2 separate regions of the Homo sapiens genome follow, and region 2 is linked to region 1. The links come from fine-mapping of genetic effects on gene expression. Tissue or cell type: whole blood. Region 1 holds a variant in brackets; the other region holds the start of a gene. All regions are shown on one strand. Distances are between the middles of the regions.

Region 1 (7,793 bases):
GGTTAGTTTCAGAACAAATGTCCAGACATTTTCAGTTTCCACTCCCCTCCACCCATCTGCTTCCCAGTAAGTTGTGAGAAATAATGAAACTTTTCACTGGTTTCTTACTCAGATCTTTGAACACCCCAAACTACTTATCACCTGGCCCCTTTGATTTGTAAATGTTCAGGTTGTCCAATTACTGTTTTTTGTATTATTTTCCATCAGCTCTATTTGTAGAGTCTATGAAGTCATGGCATAGTATCTAGTTTCCTTTTTATAGAGGAGTTCCTATCTGTGAGCCATGGTTTTCAGCTGAGGCCGTGCATTAGAATCCAGGGTGGAGTCTTTAAAAAATTCAGATACCCAGATACCTTTCTTATCCCCTATGGAATATTGATTTAGAAGGTTTGGGGTGGGGATATGAGCATTTATATGTTTCTAAAAGCTCCTGAGTTAATTCTAAGGGCACCCTGGTTGATAGCCACATTATGGACTGAGTCCCAGGTCTGTGGTATCGAGACCACCATACTGACTGGCCCCAGTAGGCCCTGGGGCCTGGTCTATGGACCCTGAGCCTGGGTTCTAGCTTCTGTTACCTCTCCCTGATGGAGAGGGTCCATTTGAGCAGGGGCTTGGCTATATGGAGAAGGTTGATGGGAAGACATGAAAGGAGGGCTTGGTAGGTGGAGAGAAGGGCAGGATGAAGCAGAAGACTGTCGCTAGTGTAGGGAAGACACGGCTGAGTTACAGCTTAGCCCAGAATGCCTGAGAGAGAGTGGTGGGAGTCCAGGTTGGATGTGGGTCAGGGCCTTGAACAACAGACTTCACGTGTACTTTACTCTTCATAAAAAGCAGTGGTGGAGGCCAGCCCTAAGGTATTGCCAGGTAATAATAGATGGTGAATCCCTGTAACGTCACCTCTGTAAATAAAGCCAAGTTTTGTCTTTCTTCTCTTCATTATTTCCAGGACAGATTATATAGAATCCAGAGCTCTTTGAAATAATTAAGAATGCACTTTGCTTTTCATGATCTTTCTTAGGAGGATTATAAAACCGATGGCTTGTTCCACACATTTTGCCTAGAGGCCTGGGTCCTGCCCAGGCGATCCCCTGGATTTCTTCACATTGCTCCAGGAACCTCACATCTCCCAGCCAAGGCAATCAATTGCAGCAGAATTCCAAAGGGTTTCCCTGTTCATGATGGGGTTTCTGCCAATGCCTATAAATAAATAAAATCAATGTCTTTTTTGTGTTTTTGCTGAGCTTTATTGGTTCCCCTTATGAGATGAGGAAGGATAGGATAAGAAATGAAGAACTTGTTTGTATTTAATCTTCCCGAAATATATTTGGGCAGACATTATTATCTGCATTTTGTGGCCAAGAACATTGAGGCTTAATCGAGGTTAAGTAACTTGCTTGTGGTCACAAAATAGTAAGTTGTGAAACTGGGGTAGAAAACCAGGTCTTTCTGGCCCCAAACCCATGCTTGCTCCATTATGCCACCTCTTCCTGTCTGGGTGGAAGGTCTGCCAGGGGATGTTGAGGCATCCCTGGTAAGGTTAAACCTCATTTACATTTTAAACCAGACACTAGTCTAGAGGCATGTCTAGGCTGATTGAAGGATTTGGGGCAGATTTAGGGTAGGCTATGTGCATGTGATGTCTGGGAGATTGATAATGGGCTAAAGTTGGGATGGTTGCAAGACCAACTTTGGCTGCTTTGCAGTTTTGCCCAGAACTATAGTAGCATCCAGGGAGCTGGTGCTCAAGCTGAGATACTAGCCTCTCTTTGGAGTTATTAACATATGTGTTCTCCAATTCAATATTGTTCTCCTGCTTGGCAGAGGAGGAGAGGTAAACAGATGCACCTGGGCAGATTTTCTTGAGTCGTTCCAGGTAATCTTTTCATAGGATGTTTCTGGCTGCTATTTCCCTTTCTTAGCACTCCTGGGAACATGTACGGGATGGATAAGCTCACGGCACTACTGTGCCTGATATTGTTGTGCGGTCTACCCAGTGTTGTGGGACTGATAAATCTGAGTTGCTAGAGTATAATTTCCATGAGGGCAGTGTCCAGGTCTATGTATCTTCAGTATCTAGCACAGTGCCTGATACATAGCAAGTGCTTTAAAAATATCTGTTGGATAAACCCAAGTGTTCTGGTTTCACATGGGCTTTTCTTCATTCAGTGATTCTACATCAAAGAGATTTCCCCAGGGCTCTAGAGAGTATGGAGAAGAGTTCATTATAATGCCTTTATTTTTTCACTGTTATGTTTTTCTTTTAACCATGAAGTCATTTTGGGGTCCCTTTGTTTTGTTTGTTTGTTTTTTAGTTCTCTAGTCAACTCCTTCTGGGATAGCCCTGCATTTTAATCACATATTAGAGAAAAATGAAGTGAAAAGGGAAGATAAAGCTATCAGCACACCTTGATGACCCCTGAGAACACAAAATCATGGACTCTATTTGCTCTGAGGAACTCCACATCCATGGCCAGGCTAGGACATCTGTGGTTAGAAGGGGCAGGGCAGGGACAGACAGGGACTGACACTCTTCACTGAAGGAAAGGCCACAAAGAACTCAAAGACAGGGCTCATCTCTGCATGGAGCTTAAATGTCATCTCCCCTGTCTATAGCATAGGCCAAGTTGCCATGTGAGTGCGGAGCAGTGGTTGGGGAAGGAATGTCTTTAATCTTAAATTTCACTCCCTTAAACCTTCAAATAATCAATTTCACGTGTTTGAAATATCTTGAGTGGGAGTAAGAAATTGGGAAAATGAGAGTGTTTGGTTTGTATTCAGGTCTAGAAAATGTTAAGAGGCTTGGTGGTGGAAAGGAGTCAGATTCTTTGACCTGCTTTGGTGTGGTTGTGTTCTGATGAAAGTGAGAGAATGTGCACCTGGGATTATTTAAACATGTGACATAACAACATCACAATTAGTTTGTCTCAATATACAATCTTATTTTCTAAAAGCACTCCCCTTCCCTTAATGGTGGGTCTGGGTTACTCCTTCCTATTGCCTAGAGATACTTGGTAGTAACATCTCACATGAGTTTCTTTTCTTTGAATTCTTTTCCTCTATGCTTGTGATAAAGGTCTAAAGGTAGTAGGGTTTTGAGGTGGAGATGATCAAACAAATTTCTTCTTGCCTAATTGTCAAAGTTAGCCAAAGAAGTCAGATGTCTTCAAGAGTTAAGTTGTTAACTAAGACAAATCAACCAAAGCCAGGCCAGCCAAGGGAAAGCAGAGGCAAGCCGACCAAAACCACACATCTCTAAGACACTCACTGCAGAATGGAATTCCGGAGGGCAAAATGGTACCTTAAACATTTTAAATTCATGCTTAATTCTACTCTACAGCAAGCCAAGTGTCATTTGTGCTGTTCTTCAAATATCCAGTGCTAGAGAATTTACTATCTTTATTTTACCTAAAAATAGGTCTGGCTATGAGATCAAATTTTACTCAATTAAACAAAATTTGACTATCTCCTTAGATTTTTTTAAATATATTTACCACTGGGGTCATTGCATTTCTCTTAAAGGTGATAGTTCTTTAAGTAATATGTTTGCAAACCATTTATAATTTTATAGTTCTATATCCTGCTGTTTTCACTTAAAATTATATTGTGAACATTTTCCTATGTCACTATATTTCTCAAAAATATGAACTGTAATGGCTGTAAAGAATTCTATACCATTATGTTAGCTATTTCTTTCTTTTTGAACATTTAGATTCTTTATAGTTTTTAAAAAATTATAATGTTACAACAGCAAACTCAAAACTATGATTTAATCTCTCATTACCTTAGACTATCTTAGATGTGAGAGTACTGGGTTAAAATGGATGAATGTTTTCAAGGATTTTGATATATATTATGTTTTGGATCATGT[T/C]CCAATGAAATAGACTCAGAGACAGAGAGTCTCTGTGTGGGAATTTTTTAAAGGAGTGCCCTCAACGCCCTTGAGAGGGTGAGGAAAAGGACTGGGCAAAGGAAGAAGATGAACTATGATGTATTGCAACAATGGCCTCAGCTGATCCTGAGGAGCGCTGGAGTTTGGAGCTCTCCTGTGAGTTGTCCCAAGCTGAGGCAAGGGGGCCGAGCTTTTGTGCTCTTGCATTGACTTCTCATTGGATGCAGGTTGTCTCCAGGGAGAGGTCATGACCTTGGGTGAGGCATCTCCCTTTGGCCAAGAGCAATTCCAAAAGAAAGACTCAACAGCTAGCTGTCAGCAGATAACATATCTGGCCACTGGGGGAATAAGCCCTCAGAACTGAAGCGGGGAAGCTTGTGGTGCATCAAAGTGATTGTTTCAGTTACCCCTTTCAACTCTTGGACCACATATTTCTTATTTAAAAAAATCACCCTATCTGGGAAGAGCTCCTCTAGAACTCTGGTTTGCTTCTTTTCCTAGGGAAATGTACAAGAGGAAGATTAATGGGACAAACTGTAGCTCTCAACAATGCAGCTGTTCTCAGGGACACAACTGACACTCATCAAATCCCTTCTTTACAACCCAGTGTAGAGTTCTCTTCCCCTTGGCTGAAAGCTCTGCTCCAGGTGGCTTACCTGGTTGGGTGACCCAAACCTTCATCCATGAAGGATCTGAGCCTGTAGTCATCATGCCCTTCTCAAGCCATGACTACTACTTTTATCCATTTACCATTACGATTGGCTAGGGTATTACCAAGAGATGCCCAAGAAGTCCTTCTGGGAGCCAAATAGTCTTTTCTGTCACCATGTGTAACAATAGCTCAACCTTCTCCTGATCAATTACCACTGCCAAAATGGTGATGCCTTTTTTGGCCTGTTGACCTCTTGGCACAAGAAACATAAAGTGCCAACAGCTGTAGCTTAAAGTTTAATGGGATTCGTGTAGTGTTCCTGGTATAAGTGTTTCTGTTCTTGGAACCAGACTCTCTAGAGCTGCAGAGCTCAGAGTCGTGGAGATGGAAGGGATGAATTCCCTGGGTAGGTTATTGAGTGAGATGGTAGGAGGGATTAGCCCTATTTCCACCCTGAACCATGTAATCTATATAGAGGAGACACAGTACTGTATAATAGTCACTTATTATTAAGGGTGGACACTGCATCCTGGAGGATGCGGGATGCTTAAGGACTCCAGCCTTAAGTATTATATTGAATGTGGTACTTCAGCAATACTTTCAAAAGGGTGTTCCTTTACCTTATAAAGTCAGCAGCTGGTCCTGTGCTCATCGTTGTACCTCTTTTCTTCTAAAGTGAGTTTCTGGGTACAACAGGATGTTCTGTGGGCTCCTGTGTTAGTGAATCGTACATGAAGTAAGTCCTTAGATAATGGTGCCGGCTGAGGATCTATGGGCAGGAATGGCAAACCTGTATCCTAAGTATGTGTTGATTTCCTTCAAGATGAATTGCTGGCCCTTCCATGGAGAAAGAGGTTTAATGTAATTGCTGTGCCACCACATGGCCGATTGGACTCTCTGAAGAATTGTTCTTTGTCAGGGGCTCGGCAGTAATCTCTGTTCCTGATAGATATTCAGCAGCAGCAGAAACTAGATCACCTATTTTGTAAGCTGCCTTGCACAGCCTCCGTGCCTGCCACCATGATTACTCTGTTCATATGCCTGCTTGCCAGCACTGGGGTGATTAATGAGAAAGGGCTGTCTGACATCACCTGGCCAAATCAGTCTGTCCATTTGACTAGAAATTGCCTCTTCCATGGTAGGCGTTAACATGGTATACAAAGATCTTCATGAAGCTCTTTGCACTTCATGTCCACTTCCGTATTCCTCTTCCCCAGACCTCCTTATTCCTTATCTTTCACTCTTTCTCCTTCCAGGCCACTAAGCAACCAGCCAACCCATTTACAATTGCCCATGAGTTTAGATATATTTGACCTTGAGCCACTTTCCACACAAAGTGAGTGGCCAGGTGCATCACTTGAAGTCCATTGGGAGGATGTCCCCTCACTGCTGTCTTTTAGGGTTATTCATGAGTGGGACTGAGAATACTAAAGACCTTTTCTGGTTTGTATTCCTACATCAAACTGGCCCAACTGTTTTGAACAAAGCTTGGCTTTTCCCTTCCTCTATCAGCTGAACATAAGTGGTGCCCATATAGCCATAGCTGGTGCAACAGTGGTGAATGACATGAGGACTTGGGTCATTAGCTCATGCAATTTTCTCGTTTTTTCCCTCCCACTTGTGTTGATGTATAATTGACAAATAAAATTGTATACACTTAAAATATACAACATGATTATTTGATATAAGTATATATTGTGAAGGAATGATTATCACAATTATGTTGGTTAACATATCCCTAACCTCAGATAGTTACCATTTTTGTTTTTGTGGTGAGAACACAGGATCTATTCTCAGCAAATTACAAATACACAATACAGTATCATTAAATATAGCCACCATGCTGTACATTAGATCCTCAGAGCTTATTCATCTTATATTAGAAAGTTTGTATCCTTTGACCAACATACTCTTATTTCCCCTAACCTCCAGCCCCTGGAAACCATGATTCAACTTTCTGTTTTGGTGAGTGTGACTTTTTTAGATTCCATATGTGAGATAATACAGTATTTGTCCTCATTTTTCTGGCTTATTTCAGTTAGCATAATGCCCTCCCGGTTCATCCATGTTGTCGCAAATAGCAAGATGTTCTCCAATTTTATGGCTGAATAATATTTAACTACATGTATACCACATTTTCTTTATTCATTTGTTGACAGGCAGTTAAGTTGTTCCCATGTCTTGGCTATTATGAATAATGCTGCAGTGAACACAAGAGTGAAGATATCTCTTTGAGAGATTGATATTATTTCCTTTGGATATATAGACACAGAAGTGGGATTGGTGGGTCATATGGTAGTTCTTTTTTTAATTTTTTGAGGCAACACCATACTGTTTTCCATAACGGCTGTGCCAATTTACATTCTACCAAGGGTACACAAGTTTTCTCTTTTCTCTATATCCTCACCAACACTTACCTCTTGTCTTATTGGTAATAGCCATACGAACAGGTATATGGTGATGTCTTATTTTAGTTTTGATTTGCATTTGCCTGATGGTTAGCGATGTTGAACACCTGTCCATGAACCTGTTGGACATTTTTATGAATTTAGAAAAGTGTCTATTCAGGTCTTTTTACCATTTTAATTATGCTGTTAATTTAATACATTAAAATTAATTTGAGTATTAATTTAATAAATTGAAATTTAATTTAATTTTAGTTAAATTATTATTATTATTTGCTACTGAGTTGTATGAGTTCCTTATATATTTTGGAAATGAACCCCTTAACAGATACATGGTTTGCCAATATTTTCTCCCATTCTATAGGTGCCTTTTCATTTTGCTGATTCTTTTGTCATGCATAAGCTTTTTAGCTTGATGTAGTCCTATTTATTTATTTTTGCTTTTGTTTCCTGTGTTTTGGTGTCATATCAAAAAAGTAATTATGAAGCCAATGTCAAGGAAGTTTTTTCTACGTTTTCTTGTAGGAGTTTTATGGTTTCAGATCTTATATTTGTGTTTTGATTTTGAGTTTTTTTTTTTATGCTATGAGACAGAGGTCCAGTTTCATTCTTTTGCATGTGGATATCCAGTTTTTCAACACTGTGTATGAAAATGATTATTCTTTCCCCAATATGCATTCCTGGTACCCTTGTCAAATATTAGTTTACCCTATATGTGTAGGTTTATTTCTGGGCTCTCTATTCTGTTTCATTGATCTATGTGTCTGTTTTAACTGTTTTGATTACTTTAGCTTTGTAATATGATTAGAAATCAGGACATGTAATACCTCCAGCTTTGTTCTTT
Region 2 (7,793 bases), 380 kb before region 1:
CACAGAAAAAGAAAAATCAATGGTTTGTAAACAAAGGTGTTCTAGATAATTTATAAATAAATAAAAATTAAAATGAGATATGTTTCATTTATGTGGCAAAGATGAAAAAGTCTAACATATATAGTATTGTTGAAGATAAAGGAAAACAAACACCACCATACACTACTGGGGGATCCAGGGATTGAAGCAAGTTTTTTGGAGGGATGTTTCCAAAAGCTATCAAATTATAAATGAGCAGACCTTTTGCTGCTGTGGAAAGCTAGCCAAAATAAGTTAGTAATTTGTAACTATCTATAAATTATAGATACTTTAAACTAGCAGTGTCTAAACTTTTTACAAATGCAAAAGTTTTTAGCATGCACCTCAAAATGTTATTTATAAATGATATACATATGCTACTAAACTGAAATTTATATTACAACACATCCCCACTAAAAGAAGTTGAAAAAAAAATCTAACCTGAATTTATTGGCAGCAAATTTAGCCTGAACTGACATGAGGTTAGTTATAGTGTTTATTTGTTCAGTGTGAAATTTGAGTATTTCTATGTTTCATTGTGTTTGATTTTCGATGCTGCCCCAGACACTGAGGAAGGTATTAGGTAATGTGTGGAATGTGCACACATAAACGTGAACAGAAGCACTTCTGAATTCTGAAACCCATCAAGTCTCAAGAGTTTTGGATAAAAGGCTGGGCACGGTGGCTCACACCTGTAATCCCAGGACTTTGGGAGGCGAGGCGGGAGGACTTGAGGTCAGGAATTCGAGACCAGCCTGGCCAACATAATGAAACTCCATCTCTACTAAAAATACAAAAATTAGCCAGGTGTGGAGGCGGGTACCTGTAATCCCAGCTGCTCAGGAGGCTGAGGCACAAGAATCGCTTGAACCTGGGAGGTGGAGGTTGCAGTGAGCCGAGATTGCTCCACCGCACTCCAGCCCGGGCGACAGAGAGAAACTCCCTCTCAATAAAGAGTTTTGGATAAAGGATTTTGGACCTGCATCACTTTTCCCTGGCAAATAGCAGGTGATAATAAGTGCTTGTTGAATGACTAAACTCTGATTCATCCTTGAGACCATCAATTATTTGCCTGCCAGTCCTATGAATGTGTTGAGGCCATTTGCCCGGTGTACAATAGGCCACAGACAGCTATTTAAATTCTTCTGCCTGCCTTCTATAGTTTTTGCTTTGGTTTGTCTAGTATTCCATCTTGTTATGAAAGCCACCAGCTATAAATTCTTGAGGTTATCAATATCCCTACCTAAAAGAAGTTGCTTTTTCTCTTCCATTTTTCTGCAGCCCTAGGAGCAGACAACTAAGCTTGTATAAAGTAAACAAACTAGTTCAGAATGAAGCCTTAGGAGCTTTGTGTTGAGTCCCATGTACACTTTGAGACACCTATTTTGGCTGCTTCTTGGGCCTACTTCCTGATTCTCAAGGTTTGGGAAGATAGAAGTTCCCCAGTCACCAACTTCTCTGTCATGTTAAGGGGAATAATTTATATTTTTACCATTTCAGGTTAAAAATAACTTCATATTATTAAGCATTAGAAAAGTAAGCTCCCTGAGGGCAAGGATTTTTGTCTGTTTTGCCCACAGCTGTATTCCTAATGCCTAAAACAAATATTTAATGAAGGAAGAAGCACCCTGAGTTTGAGAGAGAATATTTTGTCCTGATAGCTCCAGAAGATGGTATTTCTTGAGGAAATCCTGGATGTGTAGATAGAGCAGATGTTGTGAAATGCCAAAGTTAAAAGCAGATGAAGAGGCCAGGCGCGGTGGCCCACACCTGTAATCCCAGCACTTTCAGAGGCCAAGGTGAGAGGATTGCATGAGCTCAGGAACTTGATACCAGCCCGGGCAACAGAGCAAGACTCTGTCTCTACAAAAAATTAAAAAAATTAACCAGGTGTAGTGGCATGTGCCTGTAGTCCCAGGTACTTGACAGGCTGAGGCAGAAGGATTGCTTGAGAATAAGCTGCAGTGAGCCGTGGTCATGCCTCTGCACTCCAGCTTGGGAGACAGAGCAAGACCCTGTCTCAAAAAGAAAAAAAAAAAAAGCAGATGAAGTTAGAACTATGTTTTAAATGATAATATGATAATATTCAGAAATAGTTTGGTAGATCAACTCTTCAAGGATGGGGAAAAAACTGTCAGTATAAATACTTTATAACGTGCCTTAATTTCCAGACAAAAAGGCAAAATATTATTTTAAACAAAATGCCATTTTAAAAGGTCTAGAGCTAGAGCAAGCTGGTCTAACCCGAGGCCCATGGGCCGCTTTGAATGTGGCCCAACACGCATTCGTAAACTTTCTTAAAACATTGAGGTTTTTTTGCGAATTTTTTTTTTCTTTTAGGTCATCAGCTATCCTTAGTGTTAGTGTATTTTGTGTGTGGCCCAGGGAAGCCAAAAGATTGGACACTCCTTCTCTAGACTCAGTCTAGAACCCTCTCTCTACTACAGCTAAGATGAATGTGTGCTTTATTCTGAGCTAAATGTCTTAGAGGAAGGTGCAGAGGTATGGAAAGTTCCTCCATACCGGAAAACACAGTGAGGATGCCTGGGGAGTACAGAGGGAATTATGTGGCGTGCAGATTTGAATGCATGGATGAGACTTGAGAATTCTGATTGAGGACGTAAGGCCTGTGCGAGAGCCCAAAAAGCGTTCTCAGAACAAAGTAGCAAGGGGCGCGTATGAATTGCTGTGGTATCATCCGCAAGGGCTTTCAGAGGGGAAAAAGGACAAGGTTGGAAGGAGGCAGTTATGTTATGGGATGTAGGCAGGAATAAGAAGCAGTGCCAGGTAAGAGGGAGGAATCCAGGGGGATTCCTCTGGGGAAATCATGGGGAAAGGACTGTAGAAGAATTCGGCCTAGGTGGGATTCTGCAGACCAGCTGCAGGTGCAAGGACTAAAGTGAGCATGGGTGGAACCTAAGGGATGAAAAGACTGCAGGATCCTAAAGCGGCGGCCCAATCTGGAAGTGTCCGGGCTTTGGCCCAGGGCCCGGGGAGGCCAGGGCACGCCAGCCCGGGCCTGACAAGCCACGTTCCTACCGGTCCGCAAGCGTCCGGCCGCAGGTCTTGGAAGTCCGCGCCGTAAATGGCCTCCAGGGCCTGTAGCTCGTGGTCCTGTCGTTGCGGGTAGCTCTCCGGAGGCTCGTCCCGGCCGCGCCCGGGGGCCCCACGGCCCCCAGCCATGGCAGCGCTGCGCCCAAGGCAGGGCGGCCTTGCCTGGGCGGCGGTGGGCCCCCGGCAGCCTGCGGGGCGGGGCTCCGCGCTGGGGACGGGCTATGGGCGGTGTTCCACGCTGGAAACGGGCTCGTGGGCGGGGTTCCGCGCCGGGGACGGGCCGTAGGCGGAGCTCCGCGCCGGGAGCTAGCTCCGGAGGCTCCAGAAGCCCAGGCGAAGGAAGAAGGCAGGGGGACAGCTTTGCCCACATCCTGCTGGGGGAAGGGGAGCAAAGGAACTCCACGAACTTAAGAAATGAATCACAGATAGGAATGAAAACGCCACATTGTATAGTTTTCACGAAACAAGTATCTTTAACAGAAGTGCTTGCTGGAACTTCTCCACCCTGGCATGGCTAGTGCGGGAAACTCTTTTTTCTTTTTTTTGGCAGAGTTTCGGCTCTTGTTCCCCAGGCTGGAGTGCAGTGGCGCGATCTCGGCTCACTGCAACTTCCGCCTGCCGGGTTCACGCGATTCTCCTGCGTCAGCCTCCAGAGTAGCTGGGACTACAGGCGCGCACCACCACGCCCGGCTAATTTTTCTATTTTTAGTAGAGATGGTGTTTCACCATGTTGGCCAAGATGTTCTCGATCTCCTGACCTTGTGATCCGCCCGCCTCGGCCTTCCAAAGTGCTGGGATTACAGGCATGAGCCACCGCGCCCGGCCGGGAAACTCTTAAAGGGCAGACGTCGATGGGTTCTGAGGTCACTTCTAATTTCACCTTGTACCTTCCCAGAACAAGACTACCGGGAGTAAAAATTGTGACCCCCCCCACCCTCCTTCCTCCCACTTTAGTACCCCCAAACTTATTCTCTGAGCCACAGATTCAACACCCTCATTATGTTCTCTGTCTCTACATTCCCCAGCTTTGGGGATCTCCACTACCACCTTGCAAATTCAATTGAAAACTGTCTTTCCACTCAGGCATCTTTATGAGCTACCTTCCCATGAAGAGAATCATGTTCCCTTCCCAGTTCACTCAGTGTGAATTTAGGGAGTCTTTGTGTTATATCCTGCCTCAAGTCGTCGTTTTTCAAGTTTATAAAATAATAACCTGTCTACCCAGACATTGTTATTGCACTTCATCTTCAGTAACTTACTAATGCTGCATGTCCATTTCGAATAATCCTATTGTACTAACCCAAGTTAGGTTTAAGTGACGTTTCTTCTGTCTACCTTGCTTACTCCTCCACTGTTCACTAAATAATGATTGTGTAAATTCCTTGCTGCCATCTATCCACTCATTTCTGGCCAGATAACACAAATGCACTAGCTTGACCCAAGGCCAATTTAAATCATCATCTTCCCTCTGCTGGAGACCCGTTCCTTCTCCAGTGATCTCTGACTAGGTAAATGGCACCATTCAACTGAGTGTGATTCTGAATTCCCTTTCTCTCAACTCACATCCAAATAGTCACCACTTCTGTCCATCCACTACACTCTAACCCATTGCCACTAACTTAGTTCAGGCTACTGTCACCAATTCCCTGGGTTACTTCAATAACTCTCTTAATTAGTCACTGTCTTCATTCTTGCCCCACATTAAGCCATTCTTCCTATTGCAGCCAGAGTAATGTTTCTAAATTGCAAATATGGCCATTGCACTCTAATCCTTAAAATTACTCCATTTCTCTATTGGTCTTTAAAAAAATTCTTTTAAACCTATATTTATGAAAATGTCAAACATACTTAGAAGTAAACTCCTCTGTACTCATCATCCAGCTTCAACAACCATAGATATTTTGTCAATTTTATTTCATCTCTTCTCTCCATCCCTCAGGAGTGTTTTTTTTAAGTCTCAATCATATCATTTTAAAAAATAAATACCTAAGGATATATCTCTAACTAGAAAAGGAACCAACATAACATATTACTAATCTTATACCCTAAAAATGTAACCCTTTGGCCAGGGACAGTGGCTCACACCTGTAATCCCAGCACAAGGTGGAGGATCACTTGAGGCCAGGAGTTTGAGACCAGCCTGGGCAACATAGCGAGGCCCCATCTCTACAAAAAATAAAATAAAAAATTAGCTGGACGAGGTGACATGTAGTCCCACCCTCAGGAGGCTGAGTGGGAGGATTGCTTGAGCCCAGGAGTCCAAGGCTGCAGTGAGCTGTGATTGCACCACTGCACTCCAATCTGGGCAACAGAGTAAGACCTTGTCTCTTAAAAAAAAATTAACAATTTCTTAGCATCGTTTAATACCTAATCTATGTTCAAATATTTCCATTGTGTAAAATTAGAATCTATACTGGACGCTGGACCTATAAAAGATATAATTAAAACAAACAGCAAAATTTGAAAGGAATCTGTGGATTACATGGCAGTATTATACCAAATGCAGCATTAAGGGGGCAGTGACGTATTAAATATGCAGTTAGCTCCCAAATGATTCAGGAAAAAGAAGAGAGATGATGCTAAATCAAATGTAGAATGTTGAACATTGGAGAATTTAGGTGAAGGATATATGAGAGCTCTTTGAGTGACTTGAAAATTTTATGTAAGTTGGAAATTATTTTAAAGTCAAAGTTCAAAGCAAAAAAAATAAGAAACTGTCAAAGTGTTTTCCAAAGTGGTTGTACCACTTTATATTCCCATCAGTTTATGGGAGTTCCAGTTGTTCTACCTCTTTGCCAGTAATTGGTATTGTAATGTTTTTAATCTTAAACATAGTAATTGGTGCTTAGCAGTATCTCAGTGTGTCTTAACTTGCATTATCCTAATGATTAATGATGTTGGGCATCTTTTCATGTGATTATTTTCCATTCATATATCGTCTGTCTTCTGTTTTTATTCACATCTTTGGTGCATTTTAAAAATTTTGTTTTTGTTTTCTTATTAACTTTTGAGAAATATTTATATATTCTGGACATGTATTTTTTTTTTTTTTTTTGAGATGGAATCTCACTCTGTCACCGAGGCTGGAGTGCAGTGGTGCGATCGCAGCTCACTGCAACCTCTGCCTCCCGGGTTCAAGCAGTTCTCCTGCCTCAGCCTCCCGAGTAGCTGGGATTACAGGCATATGCCACCACGCCCAGCTAATTTTTGTAGTTTTAGTAGTGACGGGGTTTCACCATGTTGGCCAGGCTGGTCTTGAACTCCTGACCTCGTGATCTGCTCGCCTCAGCCTCCCAAAGTGCTGGAATTACAGGTGTAGGCCACTGCACCAGGCCGGACATGTCTTTTATCAGATATGTGACAGGCAAAAATATTCACCCAGTCTGTGGCTTGCTTTTTCATTCTCTTAACTGTATTTCAAAGAGCATGTTTCTTACTTTAGAGGACATTTAATTTGTCATTTTTTTCTTACATGAATTATGTTTTGCAGTCATATCTAAGAAATATTTGCCTATCCCAAGGCCAAAAAGGTTTTCTTCTATGTCTTCATCTAGATAGTGTTAGATTTTACCTTTTGGCCTATCATCCATTTTAGTTAAAAACTTAAGCATATACCTACTATATGAAACAGCAATTCCATCCCAGGCATTTACCCAAGAGAAACAAAAGCGTATGTCCATACAATGACTTGTATGTAAATATTTGTAGCACCTTAATTTGTAATATCCCCAAACTGGAAACAAACCAAATGCCCACCAACACAAGATGGACATATTGAAGTATAAACAAATTGAGGTATATCAATACAATGAAATACTATTCAGCAATAAAAAGAAATACATTATAGATACAGCAACAACATAGACAAACTCAAAATAATTATGCCGAATGAAAGAAGGCCGACATAGAGTACACACTACATAATTCCATTTACATAAAATTCTGAAAAATACAAATTTGGTAACAGAAAGAAGATAAGTGGTTGCTTGGGGATAGGGAGGACATAGAAGAGCCAGGTGGAGGGATTAAAGTGGAACAAGAAGAAACTCTTGGGAGTGATGTCTGTATACATTCATTATTTTGATTGTGGTGATCATGTCACAAGTATATGCATATATCAAAACTTATCAAACTGTACAATTTAAATATATGCAATGTGTTATATGTTTACTATACCTTAATAAACTGTTAAATGAAAAAAGGAAAAGGTCATTTTTTTGTTTTGTTTTGTTTACAGTGGTTTGTTTGAATCAAAATTCAAACAAGGTCCACACATTGCATTTGGTTGCTGTATGTGCAATACGGGGTTAACTAAGCAGGCTTGCGATGTATAAACTCCGTATATTTCAAAGAAAAGATTTGCCCATGACTGGCTCCTGGGAGATAACCTCTAAGTCCTTGAGACATTCTGCCTCATAAGGATGTCTTTGTATACTTGGGGTTCACAAACCAACTCATCAGGACACCCCAACATTTCCTTCTTCTCCAAGTACTTCCTAAACCTTTAGATCAGTCTTCCAAAGAAGAGTCTCTAATCCTATATGTCCTTCTTGCTCCCCCAAACTACATCTCCTGGTCTTGCTGCTTGCCCTTGATGTTCCAAAGAGAAGCTCTCAGATTTTGGTCACTGTTTCCCAAATTTTAAAACTGCAATCCCTTTCCCCTTCATTCTTGAAGGATATTTTCATTGAATATAGAATTCTGGGCCAACTGTTATTTTC

What was found. PIP is the estimated chance that this variant, and not a neighbour inherited with it, causes the effect.
Region 2: it holds the start of EIF2AK4, and the variant in region 1 is fine-mapped to the expression of EIF2AK4 in whole blood (INTERVAL, PIP above 0.99).

Annotation. Positions count from the first base shown.
Region 1 is chr15:39,546,439-39,554,231 of GRCh38, reverse strand. No RefSeq gene overlaps it. Among named protein-coding and RNA genes, the nearest start is that of THBS1, 31 kb to the left of the region's middle. The variant T/C (reference allele first, on the strand shown) is at 3,872.
Region 2 is chr15:39,929,604-39,937,396 of GRCh38, reverse strand. It overlaps EIF2AK4 (eukaryotic translation initiation factor 2 alpha kinase 4), which reads right to left and starts at 3,282. Exons shown (of 39, transcript NM_001013703.4): 1 at 3,058-3,282. The coding sequence starts at 3,201. RefSeq lists a silencer at 3,000-3,409 and an enhancer at 3,430-3,569.